Regions from separate parts of the Homo sapiens genome. Here region 1 is linked to region 2. The links come from fine-mapping of genetic effects on gene expression. A gene starts in region 2. The other region holds a variant in brackets. All regions are shown on one strand. Distances are between the middles of the regions. Region 1 overlaps SPNS2 (SPNS lysolipid transporter 2, sphingosine-1-phosphate). Region 2 holds the start of SPNS2 (SPNS lysolipid transporter 2, sphingosine-1-phosphate).

What was found.
Region 1: its variant is fine-mapped to the expression of SPNS2 in whole blood (TOPMed, PIP above 0.99).

The regions. Positions count from the first base shown.
Region 1 is chr17:4,524,917-4,535,200 of GRCh38, forward strand. It overlaps SPNS2 (SPNS lysolipid transporter 2, sphingosine-1-phosphate), which reads left to right. Exons shown (of 13, transcript NM_001124758.3): 3 at 141-277; 4 at 5,716-5,867; 5 at 6,137-6,203; 6 at 7,626-7,768; 7 at 8,061-8,213; 8 at 8,327-8,516; 9 at 8,872-8,937. Among named protein-coding and RNA genes, the nearest start is that of MYBBP1A, 25 kb to the right of the region's middle. The variant C/G (reference allele first, on the strand shown) is at 5,612.
Region 2 is chr17:4,492,592-4,502,875 of GRCh38, forward strand. It overlaps SPNS2 (SPNS lysolipid transporter 2, sphingosine-1-phosphate), which reads left to right and starts at 6,290. Exons shown (of 13, transcript NM_001124758.3): 1 at 6,290-6,826. The coding sequence starts at 6,457. It overlaps SPNS2-AS1 (SPNS2 antisense RNA 1), which reads right to left and starts at 6,144. Exons shown (of 3, transcript XR_001752763.2): 1 at 5,560-6,144; 2 at 4,951-5,124. RefSeq lists silencers at 6,083-6,142, 6,153-6,302, 6,363-6,412 and enhancers at 6,454-7,089, 7,090-7,724, 9,996-10,284.

The sequences.
Region 1 (10,284 bases), 32 kb after region 2:
GTCGGGCCGAGGTTTCCTCTCTGGGCTGCTTCCTTGGTCCCTTTGCTCCACAGACTCTTGGCCCCAAGCCGGAGTGAAATGGGCCGGGAGGCCGGGGCGCAGGGACCTGGGCCCCCCCTCAAGCTCTCCTCTCCCTGCAGTGTTCATCTGTAGCTTCATGGTGGCTGCCCCCATCTTCGGCTACCTGGGCGACCGCTTCAACAGGAAGGTGATTCTCAGCTGCGGCATTTTCTTCTGGTCGGCCGTCACCTTCTCCAGCTCCTTCATTCCCCAGCAGGTGAGGCCCGGCTCGGCTTCTCCCCGACCCCTGTGTCCTGGTCCCTCCAGCGAGTGGCTAGTCTTATTGGCCTGTTGAAGAATCCAGCCCAGGGCTTCCAGCTCCTTTGCTTGAACCCCACTGTCTTCCCAGTGCAGAAGGACAGGTGGTCTTCGGGTATTTTTATAAACCAGCCCTGCGGCTGGGGCCTTCCCCACGCTGGCCTGACCTGAGAGCCTTCCAGCCCATGTGGCCTCCTGACTCTTTCTGAGCATCCCTCTGATTTGGGATGGATGCAAAGAACAAGTCTGGCCTAGGAGTGAGGGCCTTGAGTCCTAGCCCTGGCTCTGCCATTATCTGGCTGTGTGACCCTGGGGGAGTCACTACCCCTCTCTGGTTCTTGCTCAGTTTGTGCTTGGTCTGATGACCAGCTGACTTCTTAGATCGACATCCCAGAGAAGCAAATATCAATTCAACACAAACAAGAGTCTTCTCATTTAGCTCCCACAGGCCTGGGCTTGAATATCCCAACTTTGTTTCCTACTCAGCTTTGTGACCTGGAGGAACTTAATGTCTCTGAGCCTCAGTTTCCTCATCTTTAAAATGGGGATAATACTTCCCAACTCGAAGGTTTCCCTTGAGAAGTAGCTGAGCTGTGAAGGTCCAGACCCTGGAACACGGCGAGTGCTCAGCCAGTCATTGTTTCTGTTCCTCCTTCCAAAGATGAGACTGTTGCCTTGTGAGGTAGTGAGTTCCCCATCTCGAGGCGTATTCAAGCAGAGAGTGGCAATCACATGCCGGCTGCTATAGAGAAAGATGAAGGAAGAAGGGGAGAGCATGATCTGTCTTCAAGGAGCTTTCAGGATAGCCCTGTCCTTGGGAGCACCCAGGCTTCGGGGTAGGAAGATTTGACAGGAACTCCTGTGTTCAGAGCCTTCAAGAGGTGTAGAAAAAGTGCTGAGAGTCCTCACTAAAGAGACAACAGTCTCTTGAAATCCGTGGGGTCAGGGAGGGCTTCCTGGAGGAGGTGGCGTTTGCGCTGGGCAGGCAGGACTGTGAGATCAGGCCTTTTGGTGAAGGTAGCATGGGCAGAGGGAGCCAACCCACTGATGCAGAAATGGTGGAGTGTGTTGAAAGATTGAGGATTGGGCCAGGTGTGATGGTTCATGCCTGTAATCCCAGCACTTTGGAAGGCCAAGGCGGGTGGATCCCCTGAGGTCAGGAGTTCGAGACCAGCCTGGCCAACATGGAGAAACCCCATCTCTACTAAAAATACAAAAATTAGCCAGGCATGGTGGTGCATGCCTATAATCCCAGCTACTTGGGAGGCTGAGGCAGGAGAATCGCTTGAACCTCGAAGGCAGAGGTTGCAGTGAGCAGAGATCGCACCACTGCACTCCAGCCTGGGTGACAAGAGCAAAACTCCATCTCAAAAAAAAAAAAAGAAAAAGAAAGAAAGATTGAGGATTGCATTTTCACTGGAAAGAAAGCAGGGACTGGGTCATGGAGAACCTTGAATGCCAGGCTAGAGGGCCTGGGCTTCCTTCTGTGGCAGTGCTGAGCTCTGGAAAAGTTTGAAGAACAATGGCGGGGTCAGATTTGGGTTGATGGTGGGGACATTGGAGGGAGGGCAGAGAGAATCAGCAGGTTTGCCAAGGACATCCTTGCTTCATGGGGCAGCTTCGCAGAGGAGGGTCAGGTCAGGTAAAGCTCCAGGCCCAGGATGGCAAGCAGAGCCTGGTGGCCACAGTCAAAAATAAGGACTGGACCAGAGGCCTCTAGGGCCCCTCAGGACCTTGTCTTGCCCCTGGCCAGGCCCCTGGTCACCAACCTCTGAGGCTGCTCCTGGGACTGACCAGTAAGTCTAGGACCACCATGCCAGGTCCGGGTCCATCTCTGGGTGTGTGGAAGGAGACAGAAGATAAGCAAAGGCAGAGAGAGAAACAGGTCACCTCCAGTGAATCCATAAATGCACTGAAATCACAATTTGCATCCCATAGGGGTTTCTGGTAGACTTTGGCAATGTGATTCTGAAGTTAATTTGGCAGAGAAAATGCCCAGGAACAGCCAAGAACATTGTGAAAAAATAACAGTGAAAGGGGATTTGCCTCTCAGTTATCAAAATACAGTGATTGTAACTAAAACAGCAGAGGGATGGACTAAGATCAATGAGCCAGAGTCCTCATTTCTGTGGGGATTTAGTGTAGGATGAAAGTTGCATCTCAAATGAGTGGTTTGGGAAGAACTATCTATCCATCTGGATTGAAAGAAAAGTTTGGCCTGTGTTTCAAACCATCTTGCAGAATAAAGTCCCGATAGGGGAAAGTAAAGCAAAAAGCAAGCTCTTAAAATCTAGAACTATAAATCAACAAGAAAAAGACAAATAACTCAGTAGAAAAATGGGCACGGGATAGCTACAGACAGTTTCAGGAGAAGACACCCAAACGGCCAATACGTGTAGGAAGAGACAGGGCTCAGCTTCTCTAGTAACCAGGGAAATGCAAATTAGAACAACAATGAGATCCCATTTCACACCCGTCAGATTGGCAACAATTAAAAAGGCTGACAATACCAAGTGTGATCAAAGCTGTGGGGAATCGGGGACTCCAGCCCTGCTGGTGGGAGTGTAAATTGGTAGAGGCTCTTTGGAGAGCGAAACGGCAGGATATTGTAAAACTCTGTTTATCTCCCGTGGCCCAGCCTTCTACTTGGGGTATACACCCAAGAGAGAAACTCCAGCTTGTAGACACATGCATGTAAGAAGCACTGGAATAGCCAAAAAAAAAAAAAAAGGAAGCAATCTAAATGACCATCACTGGGTGTGCACAGATTAATGGTGTGTATGTATGACTCTTTTCTTTTTTTTTTAGACGGAGTTTCGCTCTTGCTGCCCAGGCTGGAGTGCAATGGCACAATCTGGGTTCACTGCAACCTCCGCCTCCCGGGTTCAAGCGATTCTCCTGCCTCAGCCTCCCAAGTAGCTGGGATTACAGGCACGCGCCACCACACCCAGCTAATTTTTGTATTTTTAATAGAGATGGGGTTTCACCATGTTGACAAGGCTAGTCTGGAACTCCTGACCTCAGGTGATCCTACCGCCTCAGCCTCCTAAAGTGCTGGAATTATAGGTGTGAGCCACTGTGCCGGGCCCTGTGAGACTCAACAGGAAAAGAATGAACTAGATCTTAATTAACCAGCATAAATGGGTTTCAAAAAGATAAGAATGAGGGAGCAAAAGCAAGTTACAGGATAAGATGCGTGGAGGGTTTCCTTTCATGTCCATTTTATTTTTAAATATTGTTTATTTTGAGACAGAGTTTCGCTCTTTCACCCAGGCTGGAGTGCAGTGGCACAATCTCGGCTCACTGCAACCTCTGCCACCCCCTCCTCCACCACCAGGTTCAAGCGATTCTCCTGCCTCAGCCTCCCGCGTAGCTGCGATTATAGGCGACTGCCACCATGCCCAGCTAATTTTTGTATTTTTAGTAGAGAAGGGTTTTCACCGTGTTGGCCAGGCTGGTCTCGAACTCCTGACCTCAGGTGATCCACTTGCCTTGACTTCCCAAAGTGCTGGGATTACAGATGTGAGCCCACCATGCCCAGCCTTAAATGTGTTTTTGAGACAGGGTCTCGCTCTGTCACCTAGGCTGATATGCAGTGGTGTGATCACAGCTCACTGCAGGCTTGACTTCCTGGGCTCAACTGATCCTCCTGTCTCAGTCTCCTAAGTAGCTAGGATGCATCATGATCCCGCTAATTTTTATCTTTTCTTTTTTTTTTTTGAAATGGAGTCTTGCTCTGTCACCCAGGCTGGAGTGCAGTGGCGCAATCTTGGCTCACTGCAACCTCCACCTCCCGAGTTCAAGCAACTCTCTGCCTCAGCCTCTCCAGTAGCTGGGATCACAGGCACCCGCCAACACACCCGGCTAATTTTTGTATTTTTAGTAGAGATGGGGCTTCACCATCTTGGCCAGGCTGGTCTTGAACTCCTGGCCTTGTGATCCACCCGACTCAGCCTCCCAAAGTGCTGGGATTACAGGCGTGAGCCACTGCGCCTGGCCCGATTTTTATCTTATTTTTAAATTTTTTTAGAGACGAGGTCTCACTATGTTACCCAGGCTGGTCTCGAACTCCTGGCCTCAAGCAATCCTCCTGCCTCAGCCTCCTAAAGTGCTGGGATTATAGGCACGAGCCCCCATGCCCAGCCTCATGTTTGTTCTTTAAAAGCACACAGGGGGCCGGATGTGGTGGCCCACGCCTGTAATCCCAGCACTTTGGGAGGCTGAGGCAGGCAGATCAAGAGCAGCCTGGCCAACATGGCAAAACCCCGTCTCTACAAAAATTCAAAAATTAGCTGGGTGTGGTGTCGGGTGCCTATAATCCCACCTCCTCAGGAGGCTGAGGCAGGAGAATCGCTTGAACCCGGGGGGCAGAGGTTGCAGTGAGTGAGATCGCGCCACTGCACTCCAGCCTGAGTGACAGAGGAAGACTCCATCTGAAAAAAGAAGAAAAAAAAAGAAATCAATGCAAAAGAGACAAATGACCCACCAGAAAAACAGGCCAAGGCTGTAGGCAGGTGATTCCCAGGAAGAGAAACAGAGGCGAGGAGCTAAGGGCAAATGGGGAGATGGAAAAAGAGAGACAAGCATGAAGGGGTCAGAGATGGGCCAACCCAGGCAGCACCTGCAGGCACAGCAAGCCAGGAGCGAGGTGAGCAGATGGAGGGAAGTCAGGGAGACCCGGGGGAGGGCTGGACGCGGGCGATGCTGGCCAGATGGGTGGCCAGGGTGGGGCTGGGGAAAGATGACCAGGCTGGGTTCTCAGGCCCCGGGCAGCTGGGGGACGGAGGGAGCAGGTCCACATCAAAGGGGTCATGCTACCAGCAGCTGGCAGGGCCCCACCCTTCCCCACTCAGCTGGGCTTTGCCCTTTGGTGTGTGCAGGGGGAGGGGCTCTGGGTCCCCTGGGCTTCCCTGCCAACGCCCCACTCCCCACTCCCCACTTCACACTGGGCCCTCAGTGCTGCCAGGGTTGGCCTAGCCACCCGGCTTGGGAGAGACACACAGAGTGGAGGGTGGTGGCTTGAGGCTCCCGAAGTGAAGTCAGAACCAGGGAGGGGTCTCCCAGTTGGTGGAGTAGTGGAGACATAGGCTTGTGTCCCCAGTGCCTATGAGGACAGAGGGGGCCTACCTGGGCCATACCACTCTCAAGCTGGGATAGTCCCGTCCCATACCAGCACTGGGCCGGCCAGGCCCCGTCAGACCCACTATACAGAGGGGCAAACTGAGGCCCGGAGTGGCTGGGGGAGGTGGTCTTTACGGAGGTGCAGCCCACCAGCACCCTCACCCTTCTCTCC[C/G]CTGGCTCCTGGGCCCTGCAGGGGGAGGGAGCAAAGTGGGAACAAGGGATGACAGGCAGACGGTGGGTAGTCGGTCCCCCAGCATCCTCCACCCCTCCTCACAGTACTTCTGGCTGCTGGTCCTGTCCCGGGGGCTGGTGGGCATCGGGGAGGCCAGCTACTCCACCATCGCCCCCACTATCATTGGCGACCTCTTCACCAAGAACACGCGTACGCTCATGCTGTCCGTCTTCTACTTCGCCATCCCACTGGGCAGGTGAGAGCCGGAGATGCCAGGGTCTGGGTGAGGATCTGGGCAAGGTTCCCTTGGACTTCTGAGTTCTCCCACTCCCTGGGGTTCTAGCCCAGGCAGGCGTCCTCAGAGAGCTAAACATGTGGGCGGTCAGCCTTTGAGAATCTCCTGGACCTGCTCCCTGGCCAGCTGGCTGGGTGGGGAGGGTGGGCAGCCTGCCTTGCAGACCAGCGGGCACTCCCTGTCCCCAGCCCCTGTCTCTGCTCAGCCTGACGTGTGTCTCTTCTCTGCAGTGGCCTGGGCTACATTACTGGCTCCAGCGTGAAGCAGGCAGCCGGAGACTGGCACTGGGCATTGCGGGTAAGCCCTACGTCCCTTCCCATGAGGACACCCTCCGGTCCAGACCTCGCCCCAGGGTTGCCCAGAGATGTAATCCAGGCTAGGACCTAGGCCTCCAGGATTCCTCCCCTGGCTGCGTGGACTCTGAAATCCCTGCCCTTCCAGATTAGTCCAGATTGAGGTATCAGAGCGCTCAGATGTCCCGATTGAGGTGTCAGAGCCAGACACAGCCCCGCCGCCCTCGGGGCCCCCAGGCTGAGGGTTGGAATCTCCCACCCGGGAGTCCCAGGTTGAGAGAACCAAGGATTCTCCCACCACGTCAGGAAATTCCAGGTCCATGGCGGTGCTTCCTGCCTCCAGCCCTGGCGCTGTGCTAGGGTAAGGCTGGGACAAGACCTCTGTGTGGGGGCCCCAGAGTCTGGAGCCACTTCCGGTCTCGCTGGGTTTGGGGCAAGTTACCAAGGCCCCAGGACAGCGCAATCGGAGGAAACAGAGATCCCTCGTCTCTCGGAGGAGCGGAAGCTTAAGACAAAGTGTTTTTTCCTAAAAGCAGGAAGGAAGCGGCCTCCGTGGAATTTCTTAGTGGGGTGGGGGGATGGGGAGGCGAGAGGGAGGTGGCAGGCAGAGGAACTCCCCAACCCAGGGGCTCCCAGTCCCGGGGGCATGGGGGAGAGTGTTCTGCGGGGCTGGTGAGATGGAATCCAGGCTGCCAGGGTGTTACCCTCCCACCCGGAGAGAAGCCTGGGGCCTTGGAGGTTCTGTTCTGGAAAATGGGCTGGAAACGGGGAAGATCCAAAAGGGCTCGGGAGCCTCTGTGGGGCCTGCATCGGGCCCCCACCAAATGCCAGCCCACTTGATCTGTCAGTCCAGCGCTTCATACCCAAACAGCACCTTCCCAGGGCCCTGCGGCTGAGGAACCTACGTGGGGAACCTGCTCCAGGAATTTTCTCCTCCCTCAAAGTCATCATCCCATCTGGCTATCTACTTATTTTCCATCCGTCTGTCCATCCATCCACCATCCGTCCGTCTATCTATCCGTTCATCCATCTGTCCATCCGTCTGTCCATCTGTCCATCTATCCGTCCATCCCTCCATCTATCTCTGTCCATCTCTCCATCAACCTCTTTAGCCATCTCTTCTCTATCTATCCACCCACTGCTCCACTCACCCACCCCTCCTTCTTCCTTCAGTCTGTCTGGCTTCCCTGCACCTTCCCACCTCTGGTCCTGCCCCTGGTCTGGACAGGCCATCTCAAGCCTCCAGTCTCTTGACCGACCTCAGCCCCAGCTTTTCTCAGCAGCCCAATTAGGAAGGCTGGGCAGATACCTGCTCAGAGGAGAAGCCTATGGCCCAGAGAAGGCATGGGCTTGCCTGAGTCCCTCCTTCTGCAGCAGGGACGAGGCTCACTGGGCCCTGGTGTCCTAACTTCCTGCTCTCTGGCAGGTGTCCCCTGTCCTGGGCATGATCACAGGAACACTCATCCTCATTCTGGTCCCAGCCACTAAAAGGGGTCATGCCGACCAGCTCGGGGACCAGCTCAAGGCCCGGACCTCATGGCTCCGAGATATGAAGGCCCTGATTCGAAAGTGAGTACCGCGGGAAGGGGTCTGGTGGGAAGAGAGAGGGGTGCTGAGATGAGAGGGCCTGTCCCTGCAGGGCAGCCCACTAGCACCCTCAGCCAGACACCCCACCTCTGCTGTCTCAGTGCTGGGAGGGACATTTTGGCCCCAGAATCGATTATTCCTGCAGCCTGAACCCTCACCCCTGGAGCCTGTAAGACGAGGCATTTGGGGGCCTCCTGTTCCCCCAGTGCATGGGGCTGCCTAGGGGGGTGAAGGAGGTCCCTGAGCTCAGTGTCACTGCCTGGCCTCTCCCCAGCCGCAGCTACGTCTTCTCCTCCCTGGCCACGTCGGCTGTCTCCTTCGCCACGGGGGCCCTGGGCATGTGGATCCCGCTCTACCTGCACCGCGCCCAAGTTGTGCAGAAGACAGCAGAGACGTGCAACAGCCCGCCCTGTGGGGCCAAGGACAGGTGGGGCCCCGCGGGGTGGGCCCAGGGCTGGTGAGGGACCTCGGACAGGAGAGCCCCTCAGCCTTAGCCCTGAGCCGCCTCAACTCGTGCGCCACCATCCTCTGTCCCCACAGCCTCATCTTTGGGGCCATCACCTGCTTTACGGGATTTCTGGGCGTGGTCACGGGGGCAGGAGCCACGCGCTGGTGCCGCCTGAAGACCCAGCGGGCCGACCCACTGGTGTGTGCCGTGGGCATGCTGGGCTCTGCCATCTTCATCTGCCTGATCTTCGTGGCTGCCAAGAGCAGCATCGTAGGAGCCTATGTGAGTGCAGCGGGGGTCAAGGGTGCTGGGGGAGCTGGGCCTGGGCCGCGGGAGGGTCTGGAACAGGACATTCGGTCTGACTTACTGGATGTTCCCTTCCCTCGGGGAGGCTCCTATTCTCTGGCTGCCCCTGCTCATCCCCAGCCTGGCCACACACAGCCTGTCCAGGGCCTCTGGGTGCCTCAGGGCCGTGGGCATGGCTTGAAGTCTCTGGATAGCCCATGAATGGATGTGGGCCCGGGAGGGGTGTGAGGTTTTGTGGGCTCCCTGCCAGCAGCCAGTGTGTAGGGAACAGAGACTGTGGTTGCTGCGGATGGAGGGACCGCTGATGGTGGCTTTGCCTTCTCCCCGGCAGATCTGTATCTTCGTCGGGGAGACGCTGCTGTTTTCTAACTGGGCCATCACTGCAGACATCCTCATGGTGAGCCAGGCAGGCCGAGGTCACCTTGTGCTGCTGACCCAGGCCTCTTGACCTCACAGGGGTGCCTGGGGAGGGCGGGTGAAGGGGCGGGAGAGCTGGTAGGAAGGCAGGCCTGCCAGGAACGTGAACCCAGAGGCAGGGAGGGGATCAGAGAGTTTGGGGTCTGCCTCTGGCCAGGGCTGGAAAACAGGGTTGGGCAGGCAGACAGAGCACCATGTGGAGACTGAGGGGGAGGGGGCATCTCGAGGCTCAGGTTAGTGGCTGGGAGGCTGGCGGTGCCAGGCTGGCACTGAGGTGGCGCTGCCTGCCCGCCCTCCTCCCCCCGCTGGGTCTGAGCATCCATAGGCTCTGCCCTCTCTACTCAGCCTGGCTCCCAGGCGTGCCTGCGGCTGGGGCTGGGCGGACAGAGGCTGTCTTCACAGGGCCAACAATGGGCTCTAGCCCAGCCAGCTGGGGACAAAGGGCTGTCTTGAGCGGCCAGCAGGGGCTTGTGTCCCTGGGTGGGGATGGGAGCACCCTGGGAGGAGCCAGGAGTGGAGCTAGGAGTTCATGGCCCTCTGGGCGTGGCAGGGGTGAGTGTGACACTTGGTCCTGTGCCCAAGGGTCAGCCTGGCCAGGGTCAGGAGGGGACAGGAGAGAGTGTCTGGGAGGTGTCAGGGCAGGCTCTGGGGCAGAGAGGAAGGACTCGGGTGGATTCTCAGGGTGCCCGGGTTTGGGTGCCCCAGCATGGGACAGCCCGGGAGATGAGTGTGCCAGGCACTGCGGCCCCTGCACTTCGGGAAGCCTGCCTTACCCCACCCTGAGCCTCCGGGCGTATCCGCTTCCCCCTGGGGTGGCTCTGTGTCCTCCCGAGTCCATGGGCTGCGGTGGTGGTGGGGAGGCCTGGCGCAGTTCAGAGCCTCAGCACGGAGCCAGGCGGTGGCAGGGGTGCGCCAGGGTCACTGCACAGGCCCAGAGTGAAGGGAGGAGTCCGTGCAGATTAAGTGCTCTTGGTGCTGGGCAGGACCCCCTCTCCTGCCTCCACCCCCAGGGAGCGCCTGACAGCTGCCGGCAGGGTCAGGGTCCCGGGGAAATCGCGTCCCGGTTTATTAAGTGTAACAGTTTATTCCTGCTGGAAACAGGGCCACTCGTTTCATCAGATTCAGGCCCTTTTCCACCCGCCCCCCACCTCTCCCGCAACGGGGTGCCCCGTGGGTGCTGGTTGCTTGCACACAATGCCCACTAAGGCTGGCACTCCAAAGAGGCGAGGCAGCTGGAGCTCGGGGAACAGGGGCTGCCTGGGCACCCACAGAGCTGGCTGTGCCTGTCCCGCCCCCACCCCAGCCCCTCCTGTCTGACTCTGGCCTG
Region 2 (10,284 bases):
CAGCCTCTCCATGGGATGGGGAAGAGGCTGGACTCGATGCCCTTCGGTGGAGTCTTTATTTCTGATAGTCTGCATCCATGATGAAAAGAGACTGAAGCTTCTGTAATGTAGAAAGTGTTAAAAATGTTCAAATGGCAGAACAGGAACTTCTGTGTTAGTGGGGACTCAGAGCCATCTGTTCTGAGCAGGAGAGAGAGGCAGAGACGAAGCGTTCTGAGCAAAGATAGGCTCGGGCTGGGGGAGGGAACGGGGGCCCCAACCAGTCCTCAGCTTGGCAACAGCAAGAGCAGAGAGGAGGTGCCTTCTCCCCACCGTGGGTGGTGACCTGCGGGGAAGGCTAATCAAAGGGTGGAGGCAAACAGCAGGTGGAAGCTAATGGAGGGTGGAGTCAATCAGGAAGAAAATGCCTTTTCCAGAGGAACCAGGAGACGAATCTGGTTTCTGAGTCATTCAGAGCAACAGACGCGTGATGCAAATCAATGTACATTTCCTGAGCACCTGCTAAATGTCATTTACTCATTCAATCAACAAACATTCTTTGAGCACCTCCTCTGTACTGGCTCGTGGAGATGAATCAGAAAGGGTACGGGCCCTCGAGGCTCACGGTCTGTTGGTGAAGGGCGGGGGACAGATTCTTGCACAGACAAAAATCAGCACAGTGTTGGTGTGATGGAAGGATACACAGGTTACTCAATAGCCCAGAGGAGGAAATGGTTGTTCAGGTGGGCCGGGGAAGGCTTCCCGGAGGAAGCTGTTTCTGTGCTGGGTTCCTGAAGGACAAGTGGGAAGAGTGAATAGGCCACACAGGCAGAGCATGCCTCAGTCAGGGTCGGGGTCAGGGGTTGCACGCGGGATGCTCTCCATGGTCCTGAATCATCGCTGTGCTAGTGGGACAAGGGCTTTTTTGTTGATAGGAGGACAGGGGCTATAGAATAGTGCCCCAATTCTTGCCCCTCCCCCAGGCTCCAGGAAGTATTATAACTGTGAGTTCAAGAAGCTCCATGTTCAGTGTGGCAGAGGGTAATTTTGAGAGATGGGCCGTAGGATCTGAGGCTGGAGATTGTCATGGGTTGTGAAAAGTTGTGAAGGCTCTTGGAGATCATTAAGGAATGTAGTTTTTTTTTTTGAAACAGAGTCTCGCTCTGTCACCCAGACTGGAGTGCAGTGGCGCGATCTCGGCTCACTGCAAGCTCCGCCTCCTGGGTTCACGCCATTCTCCTGCCTCAGCCTCCCGAGTAGATGGGACAACAGGCGCCCACCACCACGCCCAGCTAATTTTTTGTATTTTTTAGTAGAGACAGGGTTTCACCATGTTAGCCAGGATTGTCTCGATCTCCTGACCTCGTGATCCGCCCGCCTCGGCTTCCCGAAGTGCTGGGATTACAGGCGTGAGTCACTGCGCCCGGCCAGGAACGTAGACATTTTTAACCCTATAGCCAGTGAAGAGCCTTAGAAAGGTTTTGCTCAAGGTAGTGATGAGGTCCTTTGTGGGATTCAGAAAGTGACTGATAAGCAATATGGAGAAACGACTGGAGGGCCGGCCGAGCACAGTGGCTCACGCCTGTAATCCCAGCACTTTGGGATGCCAAGGTGGGTGGATCACTTGAGGCCAGGAGTTCGAGACCAGCCTGGCCAACATGATGAAACCCCGTCTCTACTAAAAATAAAAAAAATTAGCCGGGCATGGTGGTGCACACCTGTAATCCCAGCTACTCAGGAGGCTGAGGCAGGAGAATTGCTTGAACCCAGGAGGCAGAGGTTGCAGTGAGCCGAGATTGTGCCATTGCACTCCAGCCTGGGTGACAGAGCAGGACTCCGTCTCAAAAAACAAACAAACAAAACTGGAGGGGGATGTGGGAACAGGTAATGTTGAGCTTTACAAGGGTCCAGGTAAGACACAGAGAGGCCTGAGCTAAGCCAGTGGGCAATGTGGACGTGGGGAGATGTTCAAGAGAGGAAATTGAAAGCCCTTAGATGTGGCTGTTGAGGAGAAGGAGCCCCACATGGCTCCCAGGCTTTCTGCTTGGCGACAGTGTGGATGATGGTGTTTTTGACAAAAGATAAATGATACCAGAGTGGGAGCAGGTTGGGGGAAGGATGACAAGTTCAGTTTCAAATGTGCTGAGCCTAAGGTACATGTGGGATATCTGGTGGGGGGCACGTGTAGGAGGCTGCATATGGATCTCGTGTTTGGAGATGAGGCCCTGTCTAGAGATGGAGGTTGGGGTGTCATAGTCACATGGATGATCATTGAAAGTTGAGGCCACAGCTGCACATGGTGCTCACCCCTCTAACCCCAGCATTTTGGTAGGCTGAGGTGGGAGGATCACTTGAGCCCTAGAGTTTGAGACCAGCCTGGTCAACATAGTGAGACCTTTTTCCTAAAAAAAAAATTGCTGGGTGTGGTGGTGCACGCTTATAGTCCCAGCCTTTTGGGAAGCTGAGGTGTGGATCCTCAGGAGAGGAAGACTCTTCTTTTTTATATATATATTTTTATTTTTTATTATTATTTTTTTCTTCCTGAGATGGAGTCTTGCTCTGTCACCCAGGCTGGAATATGAAAGTCTCCGTTTCTCTGTCTTTGCTCCTGTCTGTCTTGGCTCTCTTTTTTTTGTTTTTTGTTTTTTTGTTTTTTGTTGTTGTTGTTGTTTTGAGACAGAGTCTCACTCTGTCACCCACGCTGGAGTGCAGTGGTGTGATCTCGGCTCACTACAACCTCCGCCTCCTGGGTTCAAGCAATTCTCCTCCCAAGTAGCTGGGATGACAGGCGCATGCCACCACACCCAGCTAATTTTTGTGTTTTCACTAGAGATGGGGTTTCTCCATGTTGGCTAGGCTGATCTTGAATTCCTGACCTCAAGTGATCTGCTCGCCTTGGCCTCCCAAAGTGCTGGGATTACAGGCATGAGCCACCGCGCCCAGCATCAGGAAGCCCCTTCTTAAGGAGGATCCCTTGAGCCCAAGAGGTCAAAGTTATGATGAGCTATGATTGCACCACTGCGTTCCAGCCTGGGTGACAGAGAGAGACCCTGCCTCTTAAAAATTTTTTCAAAAAAAGTAAATTTCAGGCCTAGGTGAGAGGCTGCCAAGGGGGAAGGGAAACAACCGAGGCCTGAGCCCTGGAGACACTCCCATGTGGGAGGATGGGCAGAGGGCAGATGGGCTGAGCTCCCAATTACCAGCCAAGGAGGAGCAAGTGCATTCTAGGCCAGTGTTTCTCAGAGTGTGTCCTGCAGAGCTCTCGTCTTGCAAGACATTCTGTGGTCACACACACCTGGGAACGTGGCATCCTATATCTCCCTCTGGGAGACTCAGAGCATGTATTCTCATAGTAAAGGCTCTCAAAAGTCCCTAAGGAAACCTACTTTTCTGTGTTTATCCCACTACTTCCCAAGTATGACTGCTCTTTGAATAATGGCCATTAATGTTCTGTGCCCCATTTTTTTCTTTTTTGTGTGTGTTCTTTTCTTTTTTTCCCCCCACTTTTGTTTTTTGTTTTTGTTTTTGTTTTTGAGATGGAGTCTCACTCTGTCACCGAGGCTGGAGTGCAGTGGCATGATCTTGGCTCACTGCAACCTCTGCCTCCCAAGTTCAAGCAATTCTCCTGCCTCAGCCTCCTAAGTAGCTGGGATTACAGGCGCGCCCCACCACGCCTGGCTAATTTTTGTATTTTTAGTAGAGACCGGGTTTCACCATGTTGGCCAGGCTGGTCTCGAACTCCTGACCTCAGGTGATCCACCCACCTCGGCCTCCCAAAGTGCTGGCATTACAGGTATGAGCCACCACGCCGGCCCCCATTTGTTTTGAAGCTGTGATCTAGACCTAATGAATGAATATCAGAAGGTCCTTTAGCCACGGAGTTCAGCCTCCTGTTATACTGATGAAGAAACAGAATCCCGCCCAGTCTGAGGGCAGCGTGCAGTGGAGGAAGTGCTGGATTAGAGGGTAAACACACCTGGGTTTAGTCCATGCACTGTCATTTACCAGGTGTTCGACCTTGGGCAAATTACTTCTTTTCCCTGGGCCTCAGTTTCTTCATTGGCGAGATGGAGGAAAGAACCCTACCAGTCCTCTGTCTGACAGCCCCAGGTTACTGCCAGAGCTTCTCAGAAGGCTGTAGGGATTTGTCCTGGGCTGCACAACCAGAAAGGGCTTCTTGTCCTCCCTGTCCCTCTGCCCTTGGTGGCCCCTTATCCCACACAAGGACTTATTCTAGAGGCTGCCTTTGAGTTGAAACCCCAGTGAAACACAGTGGGAAGGGCTGGCTTGCTTGGTGGCAGCTCAGAGGTCCCCCAGGTTTGAAAGGCTCATGCCACCCTCTTCCCCTGCTCTGGGACCTTCCCAGTGGTGAAAAGGGAAGGCAGCAGAAAGAGAATGCTCCCCTTTCTGTCAAGGCCGAAAGTGTCCACCTGGACAGGACTGTGGCCAAAGGGATGAGGAGTTTTGGGGCACGGGAAGGGGACCCTGGGCTTGGGTCTAGAGTTGTGGTTGTGCCTCCTTCACCACTAGACACAGTTCCACAGCTGGGCAGCCTCCCACAGCTGGACTCTGTCCACCTGCTGGCACCATCACACACTTACGAGATCATTGCTGGGGCCGGGTTCTAGCCCCACGGAGCTCCTAGCTCTCTGTCCTTGTTTGTTAATCACCCGTCATGCCAGGCCACCATGGGGAACTCCCCCCATCCGCCTTTGCAGGCCTGAGCTCAGCGAGCTGGAAAGAGGCAGCAGGCAACTTTGAGAATGAAATCTGTTTTCCTAACCCTCCCGTCACAGTCATTCATACCCAGCACGCTGAAGCATATTTTTAGTCACTTTGCAGAATTTAAAATACACCTCGAAGGCGCCAAGAAACACCAGCTTGGGGATTAACTCTGCTCACAAGAGACAGTGGAGGGGGGCGGGGGGGGTGCCTCGTGCTGTGTCACCCGTTGGCTATGCCATGACTCACTGTGGCCGAAAGCTTCACCAGATGCACCTGCCTGTGGACGTGGGGTCCGGAAAAGCCTCTAGCGGGGAGTGAGCTCCAGCCCTCGGGGATGATGCCAGAGCCTGGGGCAGCTCCAGCCCTGCCACAGCTTCACTGCCTGTTCGTAATGGGTCACGTCCGTGCCCTGGGACTTGTCTGTGAAACACAGGGAATGATTAACTGGTTTCCGAGGGTTTGTCCAGTTCTAACATTCTGTCCTCTGCACTTTATACAGGATTTTAATTTCGATTTTAATTCCCCAAACAGGTGAATGGGGGAGGGAAGGGGGAGATCGTCACAGAGCCACAGCACCTCTAAGGAGGGGTGAAACCGTGATGGGATGTCAGGAACACAGAAGCACCCCAACCACTCTCCATAGGAGGCAGACCCCCGCCCCGTCCCACCAAGGGGAGGTGACCACCCGTGGATTTCCAGACTGAATCCCATCCTGCCATCTGCCCCCAGATACAGAAATGGAGGCCCAGAGAGTGGGTGTCATGTTCAGGATCATGCCACACACCAGGGCAGAGCTGAGCTAGGACCCAGCCTCCTGTCTGCCACTGGGGGCTTTGTACCCTCTCTAGCACATACCTGGAAGTCTGAAGCTTGGAGATGTGGTCCCTCAGGAGGGAAAGCCCCTTCTGAATATCCTGTTTCTGTTGGGCCCCAATCACAGCCCTTGCTCTCCCCGCCAGGGGCTGCGGGCCACTCTGTGGGGCAAGGGTAGGGTCCGGGTGCCCACACAGGAATGGGCCCGGGGTAGGTTGGGGGCTGGATCTGGGTTGCCCTGGGGAGGTGGGAGACACAGCCCACCATGACTGGTGGAGGTCTAGGTTCTGGGCCCTCCCTGAACTGGTTAAATCCGGGCGTGTGAGTATCGGAGGAGCCACCGGCTCTCCAACTGGCGCCCCTGACTTTAGCCATCTGAGACTCCTCTCTCCAGTTCTCCCAGATACGCTAGGCTCAAGCCCTCAGCCCGGCTCCCAGAGCCTCCGCCGGGAGTCCACGCCCGAGGCAGGGGTTGGGTGAAGGGTACTGAGTAGGTGCTGGGAGCCCCGTCACCAGCACCCTGCTCCCAGCTCCGTAGCCAGAGCAAACCCTCTCCCGCTCCCCGCGGGCGTTCGCGGCCGGTCGGCCCCGGCGTGACTGCGCCCCCATTGGCAGGAGGGGCTCTGCCGCCCGGGCCCCCAGTCCCCGGGCCCCCCACCCCCAGGGCAGCACGTGCGGGGCGGGGCTGTGGCCCGAGCCCGGAGCTGATTGGGCGCGGGCCTGGTGGGCGGGGCCGGGCCGCAGCTGTCAGAGCCGCGGCGGCGAACGAGGCGCAGCGAGCTGAGCGGTGGCAGCGCCGCAGCCGGGGCCGGAGCGCAGGAGCCGACGGGGCCCGACCAGGATGGTGCAGTGGCGGCTCCGCGGCGCACGCACGCGCTGAGCGGGCCCAGCCTGGGCCCCGCGCCCCCCGCGCCCCCCGCCGCCCCGATCCGGGCCGGCATGATGTGCCTGGAATGCGCCTCGGCGGCGGCGGGCGGCGCGGAGGAGGAGGAGGCGGACGCGGAGCGGCGGCGCCGGCGCCGGGGGGCGCAGCGAGGGGCTGGCGGTAGCGGTTGCTGCGGGGCGCGGGGCGCGGGCGGCGCTGGAGTCTCGGCCGCGGGCGATGAGGTGCAGACGCTGTCGGGCAGCGTAAGGCGGGCCCCGACCGGACCCCCCGGCACCCCCGGCACCCCCGGCTGCGCAGCTACTGCAAAGGGCCCCGGCGCTCAGCAGCCCAAACCGGCCAGCTTGGGCCGCGGGCGGGGGGCAGCCGCCGCCATCCTCAGCTTGGGCAACGTGCTCAACTACCTGGACAGGTACACCGTGGCAGGTGAGCGAGTGCCCCACCCAGCCCGAGGACCAAGACCCCACCCCATCCCACCACCCGCCTCGAGGGAGGTACCCCAGAGAGCTTTTGGTCTCAGGCCTGCTATCTCCAGGCCCTACGTGAGGTCCCTACGGACCCTCTGCTCAGGCACAACTGGGCAAGGGATGCCTCCGTGCACCACGGGTACAATCCAGCTCCCCGCTCATACACACCCGGGGCCAAGGGATAGAGGAGTCCCCACCCCTGGAGCAGCCCGCGCGTCCTCTCCAGCCCTTGACGGCCCATCCGTTGTCCTCCTCTCCAAGAGTCTCCTCTGCGTCTCTCTGTCTCCTTGTCTCTGCGCCCCCTCCGACCCCAGCTGCCGGTTCCCGGGCCTCCTTCCCTTCCCTTCCCCCAGCCCAGGTCGTCTGTCCGTCCATGGCCCGTCAGTTCCTTCCTTTCTCCGCCGCCTCCACCCCCCTGCGTGCGTGCGGCGAGTGCGCGCGCCCCTTGCGGGTGTGCGCTAGGGAGACCGGGTGTGTGTGCGCGTGGCGGCGCGGTTGTGTGTGAGCGCGTGGCTGACAAAGGCTCCGGGCTGCGGGGAGCGGAGGGAGGGGCGGGGCGGGTCCGCGGCGCCTGGGGACCCAGGCTGCGGTTTGCAGCTGGCCCTGTACAGAGGCCTGGAGACGCCTCCCCCTGCTCTATGGTGCTTGGGGTGTAGGGTAGGGCGCAGGCCTCTGGAGCTAGAGACGTGGAGCCTCATCCTCAGGGAGCATCTCTGGGAATCAGCCTTGGGGACGGGATTGGGATCGATAGAACAACTGGGTTCTAGCCCCAGCTTTGCTCCTAATGTGCTTGGTGTGTGACCTTGGGCCAGTCTCAGCGTGTGTTTAGGTCTGTTTGCCCGTTTGTGAGTTGATTGATCATTGGGCCTTTGGGGGACGCACGTGGTTCTGGAATTGCCTTCTGCTGGCTCCCTTCCCCAGCAATTAGGGGTGGGTCTAGGGGTAAGAATTTGCCCTAGACTGAGCTGCTACTGGTTGGGAATGGTGGAGCTTTGAGAGGGAAGGACTTTGGCCAGACTGGCATAGGAAGGGGCTCCCTGCAGGAGGAGAGCAGTACTGTGTGCCTGGCATGCTGGCCCAGAACCTGCGTAACTATAGCTTAGTAAAATCTGGAGCTATCAAACACACACACAACAGAGAGAGAGAGGAGATAGGAGAGAGGGAAGGATTTATTTTTGGACAGACTCTAAAGAGAACTTTGCGGCAATTGAGGGAAGAGAGCCCGGGCATAAACCACATGCCACCTGGTGCCTTCTCTGGGCCTCAGTCTCCCCGTCTGTTGAATGGAGTTTTGTGTCAAATGGAAGGGAAGAATTCTGATGGGAGGGCAGAGGCTTCCCCCTCCCCCCATTCCTGCTTTCAACCCCCCTTGGCTCTCTGTCCTTCCGCTGGAGGAAATTGGAAGTGGGTACCAGTGGCATCAGTTTCTGGGTCGAGCTATCCCAAAGAGAAACTTACTTTGGTCTAGAGAGCAGGAATATTGAGCACCTCCCAAAAACGCCAGCCGCTGTCACGCATGCACCATGCTGCCGGGGACCTGGGAGCATAAGCGCCATCCTTTGGGGGAGAAATCAGAGAATACCTGGGACCTGTAGTCAGTTCACAAAAGGCTTCTGTACACAGATAGGGGGACCAATGTCCCTGTACAGCCCCCGTTCAAGATGGCCAGGAAAGTGACTGGCAAAGCTGGTGTTAGCTCTAACAGTAAGGCTCTGCCTGGGAGGAGGTCTTCCCACCCTTTCTCAGCTGAAGAAGGAATGGTACTACTTCTGGCACTGTAGCGCTCTCCAACTTGTTTTTTTTCTGGCCCCAGACCACCCCCTTTGACGTTCTTAGGGGAACTGCCTCTGCCAGGGGCAGAGCCAGAGAGGGTGGGATCAGGGAGGGCTGGCACTTATCTGCTCCCACTTCTACTCAGGTCTCTGAGTCAGATTGTCAGCATGGGGGAATGAGATAGGAAATTTGTGGTGAATTGGTAAAGGGAGGTGGGGAGTGGTGGCTAAGAGGGGCGTGGGGCAGTTAGGGAGGAAGGCCCGGAAAGTCCTGTGCAAACACTTGCCTGGGCTGTGCCTCCCTCCCTCTCCTGGCCTGGAGTGGGAGCTCACACACCACCCCACCCCCAACACACAACAGACACAGGTTTCCTCTCCGGATAAGCCTGGTTGCCCCTCTCTCTATGGTAGATTTCCCCATCTCCACTTCCCCAAGTTCAGTTTTTAGGAATATTTATTATCTCTATGGTAACTACTATGGCTTGATGTGCTAGGGCCAGGGGAGTGCTCATCCCAGGCCTGAGTGCACCTGTTGCTGGCTGGCCCAGCTGGGACAGAGATGGGGATGCAGAGACTCAATTGCTCAGTCTTTGATGCTTGCACCTACCTGGCCCCAGCTCCCCACCAAAGATGGAAGGGAGGTCCCACTCTCCTTCTTTAACTCTGTCCTTTAAATCTGTTTTTTCATAGTGTAGACCAGCTTTGTCCAAAAGAAATATAATGTAAGCCACATATTCCTGTCAAATTTTCTGGTAGCCGGACTAAAATAGTACAAGAAATAGGTGTGATTAATTCATAATATATTTTATTTAACTCAATATATCCAACATATTTCAACATGTAATCAATATAAAAGTTGTTAGGGCTGGGCGCGGTGGCTCACGCCTGTAAACCCAGCACTTTGGGAGGTCGAGGCGGGTGGATCACCTGAGGTCGGAAGTTCGAGACCAGCCTGGTCAACATGGTGAAACCCCCCATCTCTACTAAAGTAAATACAAAAATTAGCTAGCATGGTGGTGCACACCTGTAGTCCCAGCTACTCGGGAGGCTGAGGCAGGATAATCGCTTGAACCCAGGAGGTGGAGGTTGCATTGAGCCAAGATCGCGCCACTGTACTCCAGCCTGGGTGACAGAGTGAGGCTCTGTCTCAAAAAAAAAAAAAAAATTATACACACACACACATATGTATGTTGTTAATGGGATATTTTGCCTCCCTTTTCATACTAAGTCTTTGAAACCCAGTATGTGTATTTTCCATTCACAGCACATGTCAATATCACGGTGGCCAGGGGCCACTAGAGTGGACAGTGCAGGTCTAGAGTCTTTGTTGCCAGAGTTCGAGCCAAGGCTCTTCAGCTTCCCAGCCGTGTGACCTTGAAGACATCACCTGAGCCTTCTGTGTGATCATTCCCCTCCCGCCTGCCTCCCGGGTTGCGTGGGATAAATGAGACTGTATCTCGAGCACCTGGGACGGGGCCAGATTCCTAGGAGGGCTTCACGAGTGCCAGCTGCCTTCTCCTTCATGCCTCTGCTCAAGCTGGCCACGATGCCTTTCCTGGGATTTTTGTTGTTGTTGTTCTGTTTTTTGTTCTGTTTATGACAGTCCTTTCAGGACACCTTTGCAAGCCCCTCCCTTCTCCACAGG